2 separate regions of the Homo sapiens genome follow, and region 1 is linked to region 2. The links come from fine-mapping of genetic effects on gene expression. A gene starts in region 2. The other region holds a variant in brackets. All regions are shown on one strand. Distances are from middle to middle.

Evidence for each region. PIP is the estimated chance that this variant, and not a neighbour inherited with it, causes the effect.
Region 1: its variant is fine-mapped to the expression of ATF6 in whole blood (TOPMed, PIP above 0.99).

What each region holds. Positions count from the first base shown.
Region 1 is chr1:161,937,952-161,946,289 of GRCh38, forward strand. All of the region lies in intron 15 of ATF6 (activating transcription factor 6), which reads left to right. Among named protein-coding and RNA genes, the nearest start is that of OLFML2B, 82 kb to the right of the region's middle. The variant G/A (reference allele first, on the strand shown) is at 4,982.
Region 2 is chr1:161,761,441-161,769,778 of GRCh38, forward strand. It overlaps ATF6 (activating transcription factor 6), which reads left to right and starts at 4,880. Exons shown (of 16, transcript NM_007348.4): 1 at 4,880-5,002. The coding sequence starts at 4,921. ATF6-DT (ATF6 divergent transcript) reads right to left here and starts at 4,707. Exons shown (of 3, transcript NR_187280.1): 1 at 4,390-4,707; 2 at 3,984-4,061; 3 at 2,343-2,717. LOC124904444 (a long non-coding RNA gene) reads left to right here and starts at 5,009. Exons shown (of 2, transcript XR_007066695.1): 1 at 5,009-5,366; 2 at 7,588-8,338. RefSeq lists enhancers at 2,989-3,158, 4,698-4,777, 4,808-4,887.

The DNA.
Region 1 (8,338 bases), 180 kb after region 2:
AGTCAAAGCTAAAGCCCTGACAATTGCCTGCACAACTCTACATGGTTCTGCCTCCCCTTCCCACACATGTACACAAACACATTTGCTTTTCTGACCTCATTTTCTAGCCTTCTACCCTTGCTTCCTCCTCTGCATGCACAGAGTCCTCTTTGCTGTCCCCTGAACATGCCAGGCATACTCCCACCTTAGGGCCTTTGCATCTACTGTTCGCCTGTCTGGAGTGCACTTTCTTCATCCCATGCACTATGAATCTTCCTTCTGCTCTCATTTTTGTTTAAGGTATTATATGAGACTGTGCTACTAATAGAAATTATAGGGCTCTTTTGGCTAGTGTCAAGTATAGATTTGCGTTTTGGACTCACATAACTGAATATGTTAGAATTACATCTAAAGAAATAATTGCCTATAAATGGAGTATTGTGTGTGAAGAGTTAGAGTCCTGCCCCATCTCCTTTCCTATTAAATGATAGTGATTTTCACAGTATCTGAGATAGCCCTTTGAATATCAGAGAAACATAAGAGTGTAAAGATTTCAAGGAAATGGTCATATTTTTCAGATGAGAAAAGTTCACCAAAGATTTTACCCATTGGTGCCAGAAATGTAAGGCAGGCAAGAAGTTAGTAGAAGAAAGTCATCACACTGTAACAATTATTTTTTTTAAGTTGTAGGCACTGATTTCCAAATGAGTTCCATAAACCACTGCTATTTCCATTTGTAGTATAGCAATAGGTTGTGATACTAACCTTAAAGGTCTCAAGTTCAACAGCTTATTATGAGGAAAGCTGCCATTCCTTTAAGAAGGTGAGTTTCTATTATCTTTTTAAAGAGAGAATTACTCCTTTATAAAAATGTAACTTCTTCATACTGTATTTCAGATCTCTTGCTTTTTAGTAAAACTTTTCATTGCAGTGGGTTTGATAATAATAGTGCTCACTTTTAAAAAATTCCCTAAATTTTAGTTTCCCCTCCAGTCACCAGCTCACTTTTCTGTGATCCTCTTTAGCAGAACTCCTTAAAAGACTCATCTATACTTGCTGTTTCCTCCTTCTCTCCTGCTGTTCTCTCTATAACCCACTCCAAATAGGCTTTCATCTCGTCGCTCCACTGAAACTACTTATCAAAGTTTCCATCACCGTCATGCTACCATATTATCTTCTCCATCCTCATCTTATTCCCAGCAACATTTGACATCACCTTGGAACACTTTATTTACGTGATTTCACTGAGACCTCCTGTCTGGTTTTGTTTTTCATCTTATTTCATTAGATGCTAGTTCTCAGTCTCATTTGACTCTTTCTCTTCTCCCAAACCCTATACATTGAAATATCCCAAGGCCTAGACCCTCTAGTCTTTGGCCTAGGTGATCTTTTTTTATATATGTATTTTAAGTTCTAGGGTACATGTGCACAACGTGCAGGTTTGTTACATATGTATACATGTGCCATGTTGGTTTGCTGCACCCATTAACTCGTCATTTATATTAGGTGATCTTATTCAATCACATGGTATATAAATTACAATATAGGCTACTATGACAGAGGCCCCAGAATGAAGGTGCCTAAACAAGATGAAAGTTGATTTCTTTTTCCTATAAAAGTGTGGGAGCTTGTCCAAGACTGATAGGATAGCTTGTTAGTACTGGAGACCCACGCTCTTTCTTTCCTGCACTCTGCTGTTCTCAACATGCTGTCTCCATCTTCTGGTCCCAGATGGCTGCTTCAGCCCCTGCATCCTGTCAGTATTCTAACCAGCAGGAAGAAGAAGATAGGAAGTGAGAACGTATCCCTTCCCTTTAGGACTCAGAAGTTAAACATGTTTCATCTGCTCTCATTTCATTGGCCAGAACTGAGTCACATGATGATAACTTGCTGAAGAGAATTTAGGAAATATAGTCTTTAGGTAGGTAGCTATGGCTTCCAGCTAAAATGGAGCAGTTCTTTTACTAGAGGAAAAAGAGCGTGATGGATTTTGGAGGACAGGGAGCAGTTTCTGCTGCACATGGCTTTAAATACTATCTATGAGCTAATGTCTCCCAGATTTGTAGCTATTTCCTGAGTTCAGGACTCTTTCCTCAGCTGCCTCCCTAACATTCTCGAACACCTGCCTGTTCAAAATTGAACTCTTCACTTTTCTCCCCAAACTCCTACCCATCTTAGGTCTCCCAGGTGCTCATGCCAGAAACTTAGAACAGTCTTGATTCCTTGCCTTCTCTTTCATCCACTTTTGATCCATCTGCCAATCCTATTAACTTTACCTTCAAAATGGACTCCAAATCCAACCACTTCTCATCAGATCTATCTTCCACATTACCACCAATGACTTATTTTAATAAAATACATATCCCCATCCTGTTTCTTACTTCCTTAAAACCTTCCTCTGTCTCCTTATTGCCTTTGGGATAAATTCTAAACCCTGTGTGAACCAACTCTTTCTATCTCTCTGGCCTCATTTTCCCATTTTCCACTTATATTTTGTATTTCAGTACTACCTAGCACAACACACCTCATGACTTGATGTATTTACTAATGCTTATCCCTCTGTAGAATTTCCCCCACCTCAGACCTGGCTGAAGAATCCCTTAGTCTCAAGTGTCACCTCCTTCAGATCTTTTTTTTTTTTTTTTTGAGACAGAGTCTTGCTCTGTTGCCCAGGCTGAAGTGCAGTGGCACAATCTTGGCTCACTGCAACCTCCGCCTCCCGGGTTCAAGCGATTCTTCTGCCTCAGCCTCCTGAGTAGCTGGGACTACAGGCATGTGCCACCACACCCAGCTAATTTTTTTTGTTTTTTTTTAGTAGAGACAGGGTTTCACCATGTTGGCCAGGATGGCCTCGATCTCTTGACCTTGTGATCCGCCCACCTCGGCCTCCCAAAGTGCTGGGATTACAGGCGTGAGCCACCGTGCCTGGCCAGAAAATGTTCTTTGTCATCTCTCCACCTCCCCAGGCTAGGTAGGCACCTTCCTCTTTATTCTTGTTGTACCATATGCATACCCGTATCACACCTATCCTGGATGATACCAGTTTACATAGCTGCCTCTTTTCCTAGATGCAAGTGCCTTGGTCAGGGGCAAGGGCTTACTCATCTCTCAGTGCCCAACACATAATAGCTGCTAAGTAAATATTTATGTAATTGAATCATATTGATCATGGGAACAAACTCCCATTGGGAGAGCATCACCTCTGCCTTACATATCTGAGAAAAGCCCTTGTTTATTGTACCCTATCAACTGAATCTGCTGGGCTATATATTAAAGTGGGTATTTTAGGCCCTGCTTAAAAAATAAAGGTTAAATTGAGCATATTCATTGCTCTGTTAGGATTACATAATGCCTGATAGTGCAAAAACATGGTTGTTGACTGAACTTTACAGTTGTCTGGGGTTTGTGAGGCCCAGCTATAGTCTAGGTAGCTTTGTGTGTTTGAAGGTATTCTGACTAGATGAGTCAGTAGTTTAAAAGTAACAAGTCACTGTTGGTCTGTGGGAGAAGTTGTGTGGACTTAGACTTGCCTTCACTGCTTTAAAATCTTGCTTTTTAAAAAATCCCAAGAAAGGTAGGTTCTCTTTAAAAAGTTTATGGCCTGTATTTGCTGTCATAAACCAACCCAGTTTTCAGCCTTTAGCCGGGCTCCGCTCCCTTAGAGATGAATGGTAACCCATATAAACTACATGGCGATTCTAGTTGTTTTTAGTCAGGAAAAGCCCCAAGGTTTTTATTAAGAAGCCCAGAAAGAAGAGATGTCAAGGATTCCGGTGAGAAGTACTATGTTATAAGAAGCAGATTAGGATAACTTGTCTTAAAAATGAAAAAGGGATGAGAAACTTGACAAGTTTTTAGTGCTTTCTTAGCACTAAATGATGACTTAAAGAAAGTTTAGTCCTTGCCAAATTTTCCCCTTTGGAACTGTTTCCACTGTGTGATAGAGATCTGCCGCTACGAGCTTGTCATCATTCTCATCCACTGTCTTCTTTGTCTTCTTCGAAGTCACGTCCTACTCCTCTTCCTCTTATCTTCTTTTTTTCGGCGGGGTGGGGGGGTTTTGTTTGTTTGTTTTTTGCACTAAGTCATAGAACTGAAAAGACTCTGGGTAATGTTTTCAAAATAAAGCCACATTGTTTCCAATACAACAGCTTTCTCTGGGTTCTTTCACTGCCTCCTTAATGTAAGTCTTAATCACACTTGTATTAACAGTAGAAACACTCTGCAGTATCTCGTTTCATACAGTGGTGTTAGAAGCATTAACTCCTCAGCCCTCATACCATCACAGGAAAACAGCAATCATTGTTAACCCCCATCCATTGGGGAGATGAAGAAAATGAGCAAACTATGAAGAATGCAGTTTATTTCGTCTCCATAAGACTGTGAGGCAGTGGAAGGTAAGGGCTAGACCCCAGGATGGCTGATTCCTAGGGCTCTTTTCCTGTGCTCCAGAATGCAGTGACACCTTTCAGTTGTTGCTGTATTCAGAGGTGTGTGTTGCATGTGATAGGTACAGTACTTGACATTATTAACTCTTGCAACCACCCTATGGGTTAGGTATTAATATCCCCATGTTATAGATGAAGTCTGTGATTCCAAAGCCTGATGTCTCTCCACTGTGCCACACACACTGACTCCACACAATAACAATTACTCCCATTTCATATCACTTGACATCCTGAAAGTCCTCCACAAACATCATCATATTTAATCCTTAAGAACTTTGGAAATATCAGTGATTATCACACACTTTGAAATAAGCAAGTCACTAATCAATGTGATCTTATTAAAATTTAAGTCAGTTCATGATGCTACTACTCCGACCTTCCAATCATGTCACATCTGTCTAGAATCAAGGCCCAAATCTGTGTGACCTGTGATATGGTTTGGCTATGTCCTCACCCACAGCCTCATCTTTTTTTGTTTGTTTGTTTGTTTGTTTTGAGACAGAGCCTCACTCTGTCACCCAGGCTGGAGTGCAGTGGCGCAATCTTGGTTCACT[G/A]CAACCTCCGCCTCCAGGGTTCAAGTGATTATCCTGCCTCAGCCTCCCAAGTAGCTGGGATTACAGGCATGCGCCGTGACACCCGGCTAATTTTTGTATTTTTAGTAGAGACGTGGTTTCACCATGTTGGCCATGCTGGTCATGATTTCCTGACCTCGTGATCCGCCCACCTCGGCCTCCCAAAATGTGGGAATTACAGGCATGAGCTACCACACCCAGCCCCAAAACCTCATCTTGAATTATAATTCCCACATGTCAAGATTGAGACCAGGTGGAGGTAATTCGATCATGGGGGCTGTTTCCCCCATGCGGTTCTCATGATAGTGAGTCTCACGAGATCTGATGGTTTTATAAGCATCTGGCATTTCCCCTGCTTGTACTAACTCAGTCCTGCCCCCTTGTGAAAAGGGTGCCTGCTTCCACTTTGCCTTCTGCCATGATTGTAAGTTTCCTGAGGCCTCCCCAGCAATGTGGAACTGTGAGTCAATTAAACCTCTTTCCTTTATAAATTACCCAGTCTCAGGTATTTCTTCATAGCAGTGTGAGAACGGACTAATACAACCTGTAAGGAGAGTGGTCCGCTGGTTTCCTCTCCAGCCTCATCGCCTCCTACTCTTCCCTTGATTCTCTCTGCTTCAGTCACACTGGTCACCTTACTATTCCTCAGATACTCAGGGCACGCTCCTGCCTCAGGGCCTCTATACCTGCTCTTCCCTCTATATGTAATGCCCTCTCCCCAGACACCTGCTTGACTAGCTCCCCCAGTTCTGCCAGGTCTCGAACAAAAAATCACCTTTTCACACGCACACAAAAAGCCATCTTGCTGGTCAGGACTTGCCAGACCACTCTTTGCAAAATTCCAGTCTAGCCCCTAACATGTCATATCCACCTTCCATGCTTTAGTTTTATCCTTAGTCTTTATCATTTTCAAACATACTGTGTATTTACTTACTTCTCTCGCTTACCATCTGCTCACTAGAATGTGAATGCTGTGAGGGTAGGGCTTTCATCTGTTTTGTTGTTCACTTCTCCACTCCAGCACCTGTAACATACTGGGCACATAGCAGGCACTCAATAAATATTTGATGAATGAAAACAGATTAGAAAATAGAAAGTCAAAGAAGCTAAGTGAGTTTCCCCAAAATGATATGGTATAGCAGCATCAAAGCTAAAACCAAGACTGGTCTTCTGATCCACATGCAGTTTGGTGCTCAGTTAGGCCAGAATCCGAAAAAGTTGTAAGTTAAGTTCTGAAATAAAACTCAGCCAAATAAAGTAGTTTGGTGTAATTTGCACTTTTAAAATAATTTTTCATCAGTTACTATATCATAGAGGATGAAGAGCAGTCCTTCCCTTGGACTGTCTCCAAGCAGCAGGAATAATGAGAATAAGTTACAGAACTTAAAATAAACCCAGGTGTTTCTGGGCCTGAGATTCTTAATGTCCACAATGAAGGGACCATGTCAGTTCAGAGCTCTTCACAGCTCTAATCTTGAATCCATCTCATGGATGAATGAAATGCCTGGTTTTCTTTGTAATTTGTTCAGTTCTATGCATACAAGGTATGCAGTTTGTTCTGTAGATAAACTACACATGGGTATTTCTGTAACTCTCCTTTTATCATCATTACCGTCTGTTTGATTCTTTCCCCTACATTTGTGCAAAATGTAGGCTTGTCATCTCACTGTGTTGTATTGCAGGATCAGCAAGCATGTCAAGGATCTCATGTGTCTTCTAATCTCATGCAGCCTCTGCTGCAAGGAAGCTCTCACCACTGCCTCCTCAGAGTTATCCAATGGGCAAAGAAACCAGAAGGCAGGACGACTTAAGGCCAGGGAACTAAATATGCAATAATGGTGTCTGGGGGTCAGGAAAGCAAGTGTTTGTACAACATGGCCTGGCATTCTTTGTCACTCTGAATTAAATCTGCACATGGTAATCAGACCTAAAAGAAGTGCACCAATAAGTCAGGCCATTGGTTATCCAGCTCTATACAAGTTTTGGCAAAGAAGGTTAAATGCAGTGTTTGGCATTGTATCTCATCCTGGTTCATTTCTTCATTAAAAATTCCCTCTGTAGAGAGTAAAATACAGTTATTTTGAGGTGGTGTCCATATCCTTAGGAACAGGAGGCACCGTCCTAAGCTCCTTTACACATACCAGCTCTTAAATACACAACTTGAGTAAGGTTTATAATTCTCATTTCTATTATATGCTGCACATGGCTTATGATAAAGTGAACCTGCAAATGATAGCAAGATAGAACAAGTCTGCAAAAGTAAGAATGGCACGTTAATTACAGAAGTTGGATCCTATCAGTAATTTAAACCAAAGCATTTATTTGAAAACAAAATGAAACAAAACACCAATGCCCTCAGTCACCTTCTTATTCCATTCCCATTTGCTCCAGTAGGAATTAATCTCTTTATTTCTCCTTACCCTTGAGCACTTTTATATATCTGCACTTGGGTTAAAGGCAGTTCTATTAATTTCTTTGTTTGGACAGAAGTTTCCTTAATTTACCATAATCATCACTGTTGTCACTATGCCAGTCCAGTATGTTTGGACTTCACAGATAAGTCTTGCAGTTTCCAAAACACCATCCCATCCTTACTGCGTTTATTCTTGAATGACTTTTCACTGGGAGATAGTATACTTATCTTTTTCAACAAAACTACAAATGGGATCCTAATAACAAGTTTACTGTTTGTTAATTTGTGTTAGATATAGGCATACTGTCATATTTTCCTGTAATTTTTCATATCTGGTCTTGTGAACTGTTACTAGTATTTTTCTTCCATATGTATTTTACCTACCAACTTGATTGTAAACTGCTTAAAGATAGAAGCTATGTTATATAAGCATTTCACGCATGCTGGCTCAATGAATCACAAATAATTGGGAATTTGGTTAGACATCTCATCTGAACAGTCCCTGCCCTGATACCACCCTGGGACATTCAGCCCTTGGCCACCTGCTTTGATGAGCACATTTCTATGTCTCCTGCTTAAGTACTTACGTAAGATGCTACTGAGTACCTGACTTCAGACCTACAGAGTCTGTTTTTGTTTTGTTTTGTTTTCTTTTGTTTTGAGACAGGGTGTCAGTCTGTCACCCAGGCTGTAGTGCGGTGGCTAGATCTCAGCTTTCTGCAGCCTCAACCTCCCAAGCTCAGGTGTTAGCCTCCTGAGTAGCTGGGACTACAGACACAAACCATCATGCCCAGCTAATTTTTGTATTTTTCATAGAGACAGGAGTACTCCATGTTGCCCCAGCTGCTCTCGAACTCCTGGGCTCAAGCAGTCTGCCTGCTTTGGCCTCCCGAAGTGCTGGGATTGCAGGCGTCAGCCACTACACC
Region 2 (8,338 bases):
TAAAAATACAAAAATTAGCTGGGCATGGTGGCAGGCACCTGTAATTCCAGCTACTTGGGAGGCTGAGGCAGGAGAATCGCTTGATTGTGGGAGGCAGAAGTTGCAGTGAGCCGAGCTCACGCCATTGCACTCCAGCCTGGGTGACAGAGAGAGACTCCGTCTCAAAAAAAAAAAAAAATTCTGGGAAAAACACAGAACAAAATGAAAAAAGTTGTGGAGAGGAGAGGTAGGATAGATAAAACAAGAATGGCAAATTGTTTAAGCTGAAGCTGGATGATAGGAACACAGGGATTTATTATATCATCTCTTGTATTTGTTTGAAAATTTTCATACTAAGTTTATTTTACAAATTAAAACATTAAATAAAATAGAATTTAAAAGGTTGGTGTTTGCATAATGTTCTGCTAAATAAAAAATCCTAAAGAACTTTAGACAAATTTTTTTAAAGTCATTTTTATTTTATCACATACTAGTTTCCATCTACCATAATATGATTTTTTTTTTTAGAGACAGAATCTTGCTATATTGCCCAGGCTAGCCTTGAACACCTGGGTTCAAGCAATCCTCCTGCCTCAGCCTCTCAAGAAGCTGGGATTACAGGTGTGTACCACTGTTCCTGGCACAGACAAAATACTAGAATAACAGAATTCAACAAGGTTTTTGGTACAAGATTGCTGTACAAAAATCCACAGTGTTGCTATACCCCAATAATAGCCAAATAGAAAAAAAAAGATGTGAAAAACAAAACTATAAAACTATGAAAATGAAAATGAAAATCTTAGTGACCTCAGGAGAGGGAAGGATTTCTTAAGAAAGCTACAAGTCAGCTATCATAACAACAGATTGATAAATTTGACTACATTGAAATTAAAATCTAGAGAACAAATCACCGTAAACAAAGACGACAAGTGTCAACCTGGGAGAAGGTATTTATAACATATACCAAGCGTTAACTTAAAAAAGCCCAACAATGGGCTGGGTGCGGTGGCTCATGCCTGTAATCCCAGCACTTTGGGAGGCTGAGGCAGAAGGATAGCTTGAGCCTAGGAGTTTGAGACCAGCCCGGGCAACAAAGCGAGACTCTGTCTCTCTCTCTCTTTTAAAAATGTATATATTAAAAAGCCCCACAATGAATAAATTTAGAAAAGAAGGGGAGACTTTATGGCCTGCAAGGTGGCCATCCTGCAGGCTGGGAAGCGTGCCTCCAGAAACAGGCGCTTTGAAGGAGGAGGGCTTGGAGTGTAGTTCAGGCTGAACAGGTTGGCTAAACCTACATTTTCACCAGGTTACAGGAAGAGCTATGAATATTCATGAAAGTGGTCCTGACACATGCGTATTGAACAAAAACTCATGTAACATATGACCCATATTCACTTTGGGATGGAGACTTAACTTTTTTGTTGTTGTTGTTCAGACGGAGTCTTGCTCTGTCACCCAGGCTGGACTGCAACGATGTGATCTCAGCTCACTGTAACCTCCACTTCCCGGTTTCAAGCGATACTCCTGCCTCAGCCTCCTGAGTAGCTGGGATTACAGGAACCTGCCCCCACGCCTGGCTAATTTTCGTATTTTTAGTAGAGATGGGGTTTCCCCATGTTGGCCAGGCTGGTCTCAAGCTCCTGACCTCGTGATCTTCCCACCTGGGCCTCCCAAAGTGCTGGGATTACAGGCGTGAGCCACCACACCCAGCCAAGACTTAACATTTAAATGTATTACGAGCCCTATACGTCAAAAGGTCTTTCAGGACATGAAGCCATGCAAATGTGCGACCTCTGTAGACCAGCCAGAACCAGTCCATGGCCAGTGGTCTTCTTACCTGGAGAAAGTTACTGAAATCAACAAAAAGTTGTCCAATGAAAGCTGTAGCTATGGCTGGTGGAACGGGGACTGGGGGTCAGTAAGTCAGCATCTCGTGGAGCTGCACATTATTTTAATATTGTTTATCTTTAGGCCAGTACTTGTTTAGCTGCTAGAGAAGAATCTTGTGGCAGTTAGAACACAGTTTATTCTTTAAGTATAGGGGTGTGGGACTAAAACCTTGCCTGGAATGGCTTTAGGTCTTTTTTATAATTTGGCATCTTATTGCCAGAGTCTGTTCTGTCAGTCTTATCATCTCTGTTTTAACATTAATGCTGGCCAGTTGTTGTGTTAAACTACAAAAGGGAGGGAGTATAACAAGGTGTGTCTAACCTGTCCCATCGTGGTCTAGAACTCAGTTTTAAGGTTTTCTAGGATCCCCTTGGCCACAAGGGGGCCTATTCTGTTGGTGGCGGACTTAGGAGTTTAGTTTTACTTTATACAGGTGAATGAATAGAGCAGGCTATCTAATGACGTACACATCATTTGTGAAAGAAAACTCCATAGCAAACTTTATAAAAGGTAAGAGTGGACAGTTCACAGAAGAGGAAATAAGGTTTCATAAGTATGGAAGAATGCACCACTTTGTTAGGGAAATGTAAATTGCAATTTTCACAGCGGTAAAAATGGTAAGAGTCTGACCATATCTTGTGTTGGAGAGAATGTGGAACAAAGAGAACTCATCAATGCTAGTGAGGGTGTAAACTGATAAAATAGTACATACATTATTTAAGACATTCTTGAGGCTGGGTGCGGTGGCTCACGCCTGTAATCTCAACAGTTTGGGAGGCAGAGGCGGGCGGACTGCTTGAATTCAGAAGTTTTGAGACCAGCCTGGGCAACATGGTGAAATCCTGTCTCTACAAAAAATACAAAAATTAGTCGGGTGTGGTGGTGGGTTCCCGTAGTCTCAGCTATTGTGGGGAGAGGCATGAGGATCGCTTAAACCTGGGAGGTCAAGCTGCAGTGAGCTGAGATGGCTCCACTGCAATCCAGCCTAGGGGACAAAGTGAGCCCCTGTCTCAAAAAAAAAAAAAAAAAAAAAAAGAGGGAGAGAGAGAGAGAAATTGAGATTCATTCAAGGAAATACCATGGGTAGATCCTTAATATCCAATAAGAAAAATGATTTGGAGAACATTAAAGTTTACATACATTAAAAAAACCCAAATGACACTAAATGCATGTGTCTATAAACATGTTTAAGCACCGTAAAACTAAAAATAAAAGTGGACTAGAATTACACTTTTATTTTTATAAAATAAAATTTTATACCCATAAAATTCATGGTAGAAGTGGCCTACGCCAAGGGAGGAAAATGAAGCAGGGAGGAAAGAGGAATTCAATTCTGTAGTATTTAATTTCTTATGAAAAATCTGGGACAAAAATGAAAAATGTTAAATTTTTAAATTCTTGGTGATAGGTCACAAATGTTTGTTTCATAATTACTTGCACTTTTTGAATAAAAATAAAATCTTTTGGAAATTAAAAAAATTGGCGATTTGTCATGGTGATTTTCTTAAAAGACTAAGGTGTCTAGTGGGATACAGAAGACTCGATGATTTTATTTTATTTTAGGTTTTTTTTTTTTTTTTTTTTTTGAGACGCAGTCTCGCAATGTCGACCAGGCTGGTGTGCAGTGGTGCGATCTCCGCTCGCTGCAACCTCTGCCTCCCGCGTTCATGCGATTCTCCTGCCTCAGCCTCCCGAGTAGCTGGGATTACAGCTACTTGCCCGCCACCACGCCTGGCTAACTTTTTGTATTTTTAGTGGAGACAGGGTTTCACTATGTTGGCCAGGCTGGTCTCGAACTCCTGACCTCGTGATCCGCCCGCCTCGGCCTCCCAAAGTGCTGGGATTACAGGCGTGAGCCACCGCGCCCGGCCTTATTTTAGTTTTTTATGTCAATTTTTGAATTTGTAATTGGGTGAGAATTAAAGTGTTATAAATTTCACCTTAAGTGAAAATTTATTAGTTTTCTAATGACAAAAGTAGTTACATCTGACGTAAGGGGATTTAATTATCTTTTTCTGGGCTTGCGTCCCGGAACGCTGCTGCATTATGTAATCTGTAGTAATATACCCACGAGCAGTTTGGAGGGTTCTGGGAAGCACATTTGTTTTGCTTACCTACCATGGGAAAGATTCCACGTGGTCCTAGAAGCATACGTATTCGTCGGTTACAGTATTTTAAATATTCACTGGCCGCTGAAATTTAAAATGGATGAAAAAGAAATTCTCTTAAGTAGCGTTCTTGAAACTGCTTTATCAAACTCAGTTCATATTTTCAGTTGGAGTTCGTGATGTATGTGATTTTCCTTTAAATAAAACCCGAATCTTTAGTAATACAAATATTGGGAACTTCGATTACTGTAGGTCTTAGGGTAGACTCGCTTGGACTTTGACTAAATACTATGCTTTAGAAATTTATCTTTAGGAGATAAATTTGGGGGGTTTATCTTTTTATATTTGCTTTGTTTCAATTTATTTAAATAAAAGTAGTCTTTCTAGAAGTATGTTTTATAGTACCACTTACCTCGGTTACTGTCCCAGTTAAGCAGTTTTCACGAATGTGGAAAAATAGTAGTGTTTTTCTTTCATACACGCGTATATGAAAAATTTTTACATTGATAGAGAATTATTCGTAAAAATTAAAGTAAATTTACTGTTAGTCTCTAATTTTGTTCTGAGATAGCCACGCTGTGGCATTAAGAAGGATAATCAAGGAATAAGCCATAATGTTCAGAAAGGGGCTTTACTTTTTATTTTTAATATTATTGATAAACTTTGTTTAGTCGAATTGATGTCTGCGTGTCTTCCCCCGCCTTCCCCATAAAACAGCGGGACAGAAAGTCCTGAAAACTCCAAAAGGGAAATATTTACTCAGAGGTCTATTCAAATTTGCTTAGTCTCTGACGTTTTCCTGTGTCGTACAAATCCCTCGTGCGGCAAAAGTAGTTTGTCTTTACTAGGCCACCGTCTCGTCAGCGTTACGGAGTATTTTGTCCGCCTGCCGCCGCCGTCCCAGATATTAATCACGGAGTTCCAGGGAGAAGGAACTTGTGAAATGGGGGAGCCGGCTGGGGTTGCCGGCACCATGGAGTCACCTTTTAGCCCGGGACTCTTTCACAGGCTGGATGAAGATTGGGGTGAGTGGGATCTGAGAATGTACCAGGGTGGCTCGGGTTCGCGTCTAAAGGTTTCTTCCTCCCTACTTCCGCCCACTCGTGGTGACAGGTGTGGACCAACCCTGCCTGGGGAGTGAGGCCCCTCGTCACTCCTGTTCGTGCCCCTGGAAGAGTCTGGGAGTATCGTTCGGCTTCTGTCCTGGCCACAGGGAGAGTAGAATATTGTCTAACTGGAGTTAACTGTCGTTTTTCACTATTCCCACTGGGGAAGTACCGGGTGATCTTTTTGTGTGGCTAACACTGGACGTCTTTAGGAGGTTTAGAGCAAAATGGCTGGGACCGCCAAAAAGGCTACAAGCTATTTCCTGAGTGTGAAATGTGGGCGGTGAGCACAATGGAGTGGGTTTTTGTGTGTTTGGTGTATATGAGAGAATGTGGTTATATACAAGAAATTCTAATCTTACAGCTTTTACTATTGGTTTAAGCCTGATGTCCGTCTTGGCAGAAAAGCAAAACACCCAAGCACCTGACCTCGGGTCCCTGCTTAGCTACACCTAATACTTATGGTGTAATCCTGACTGCTCTCCAGATACAGCTCTTAATTTTCTTGTTAATGGATATTTTGTTTGGTTTTGGTGGTCAGGAAGGGTGGAATGGGATGAAGTGGAAATGAGAATGAAGAAACTTTGTTATCTAAGTATTTAGAGGAGACTTTTATTCTCCTCTTGATTGCAAGATATAATAGTAATATTGTTCTTAGGTTCCAATATGAATTTGGGATTGTGTAGGTTCCCAAATGGGCCCGCTAGTGAGCCTACACCACTCATCAGCCTTGGAACTGGGGGGAACCCAGTTTATCTTTCTCCCTTGGATCAGCATTCTCAATAGCAGGAGTGGAAGGAATCTCAACTTTTTATTGAACAAAGTCATTTAATTGTTTCAAGGACAGATGTTCTCTAAAACTATATTCTATTGGAGATTTATTTTAATCCTTGGGTAGATTTTTTAAGAGTTGCTGGAAAACTTAAGATTTTTTATTCCCATTTTCCCAAGCCAAATGCATTAGTGACAGTAACCATTTATTTAGCTCTTTGTGTCAGGGACCCTGTTAAACTCTTGACATGAAGTATTTTGTTTAATCCTACCAACAGTCCAATGAGGTACTGTTTATTTTAGAGATGAGGAAACTGAGGCTAACAGAATTTGTGCTCAGATTCTTAGAGCTAGTTAGTGGCAGAAGAAGGATCAGACCAGGTTTTTCTACCTCCAAAGTCTGTACCCCTAGCATCTATTCTATAATGCTTTCCTAACTCATGTCTACAGATTTTATTCTTCCTAAGATCCCTGGTTATTAATAAGACTACTTGAATATATTGGGTAGTTATGATTTATTTTGTCAGCTAGTCAGCTATTATATTTTCATGACATTTCTTTTCTTTACCTCTTTTTTTGAGATGGAGTTTCGCTTTTGTTGCCCAGGCTAGAGTGTAATGGCGCAATCTTGGCTCACCGCAACCTCCGCCACTCGGGTTTGAGCGATTCTCCTGCCTCAGCCTCCCGAGTAGCTGGGATTACAGGCATGCACCACCACGCCCGGCTAATTTTGTATTTTTAGTAGAGACGAGGTTTCTCCATGTTGGTTAGGCTGGTCTGGAGCTCTGGACCTCAGGTGATCCGCCCACCTCGGCCTCCCAAAGTGCTGGGATTACGGGTGTGAGCCACTGTGCCCGGCCAGTGACATTTCTTAAAGTATAACTGTGGGACACTTCCTGGTAGCATAATTTTATGTCGTCTTCTGATACCCAGGCTGCATTTTCCAGACTTATCTGATCACTTGACTTAATGTTCTCTAACAGAGCATTCAGTTCTTTGTAGTCAGTTCACCGACTCACTTCTATCGGGTATCCTGCCCTGTCCCTCCCTGAATGTGCCCATTTCCATTGTTTTCCAGGTTTCCCTTTTCAAACTGTTAACAGTCTTCTCTTCTTTGAAGACTTTAATTTAATTCCTTAGGTGTTCAGTAAGTAGGATAGATTTTGTTGGCAATAGAGTGAAACACTACTGTCTGATAGTGTTTCGTTCTGTGACAGTTGCTGTTTTGGATGTTCAAGTACTTCACTGATTTACTTGATTTTGTTGTTGTTGTTGTTGTTTCTTTTAGAGACAGGGTCTTGCTCTGTCGCCCAGGCTGGAGTGCGGTGATGCAATCATAGTTCACTGTGACCTGGAACTCCTGGGCTCAAGTGATCCTTCCATCTGAGCCTCCTGAGTCGCTAGGACTACAGGTGCACACCGCTACCATGCCTGGTTAATTTTTAATTTTTGAATTTTTTGTAGAGACAGGGGTCTTGCTGTGTTGCCCAGACTGGTCTCCAACTGGCCTCAGTCATCCTGCCTCAACCTCCCAGGTGATGGGATTACAGGCTCAAGCCACTGTGTCTAGCCTTGATTTTTTTTTAATATTAGACACTATCTAGTTAAAATTTAAAAATCAGATTATGTAATTAGTATGTCCTGTGATTTTAACAACTCTAAATAATTTAAATAAAGTGATTAACTCAGAACAGCCTGTGAGGGATGTGCTTTCCTTTTTCTTTTTAACTTAGGTAATGAAATTTAGAGCAAGAGTCTTCAAACATTTTCTGTAAAGGTTCAGATAGTAAATATTTTAGGCTTTGTGATTACATGGTCACTGTTGCAACTACTCAAGTCTGCTGTGATAGTGCAGGAGCAGCCAGAGACAGCATAAACAAGTGAGCATGGCTGTGTTTCTATAAAGCTTTATAGACACTGAAATTTGAATTTCACATAATTATTTTAAATAATAAGCCTACTTTTTTAGTATAATTATAGATTTACACAATAATTGAGCAGATAGTACAAAGAGTCCACATACTTCCCCTTCATCCCCAGCTTCTCCTATTGGTAACATCTTGCATTAGTGTGGTACATTGGTTACAATTGATGAGCCAGTATTGATACATTATTATTAACTAAGCCCATCATTTAAAGTTCACTCTGTTGTACATTCTATGGCAGGGATCCCCAGCCTTTTGGCACCAGGGACTGGTTTCATGAAAGACAATTTTTCCACAGGAGGTGGGGACAGGGAGGCACAGGAAATGTTTTCAGGATGATTCAAGTGCATTACATTTATTGTGCACTTTATTTGTATTGTTATTACACTGTAATATATAATGAAATAATTATATAACTCAACATAATACAGAATTAGTGGGAGCCCTGAGCTTGTTTTCCTGCAACTAGATGGTCTCATCTGGGGGTGATGGGAGACAGTGATTAGATCATCAGGCGTTAGATTCTCATAAGGAGCGTGCACTCTAGATCCCTCACATG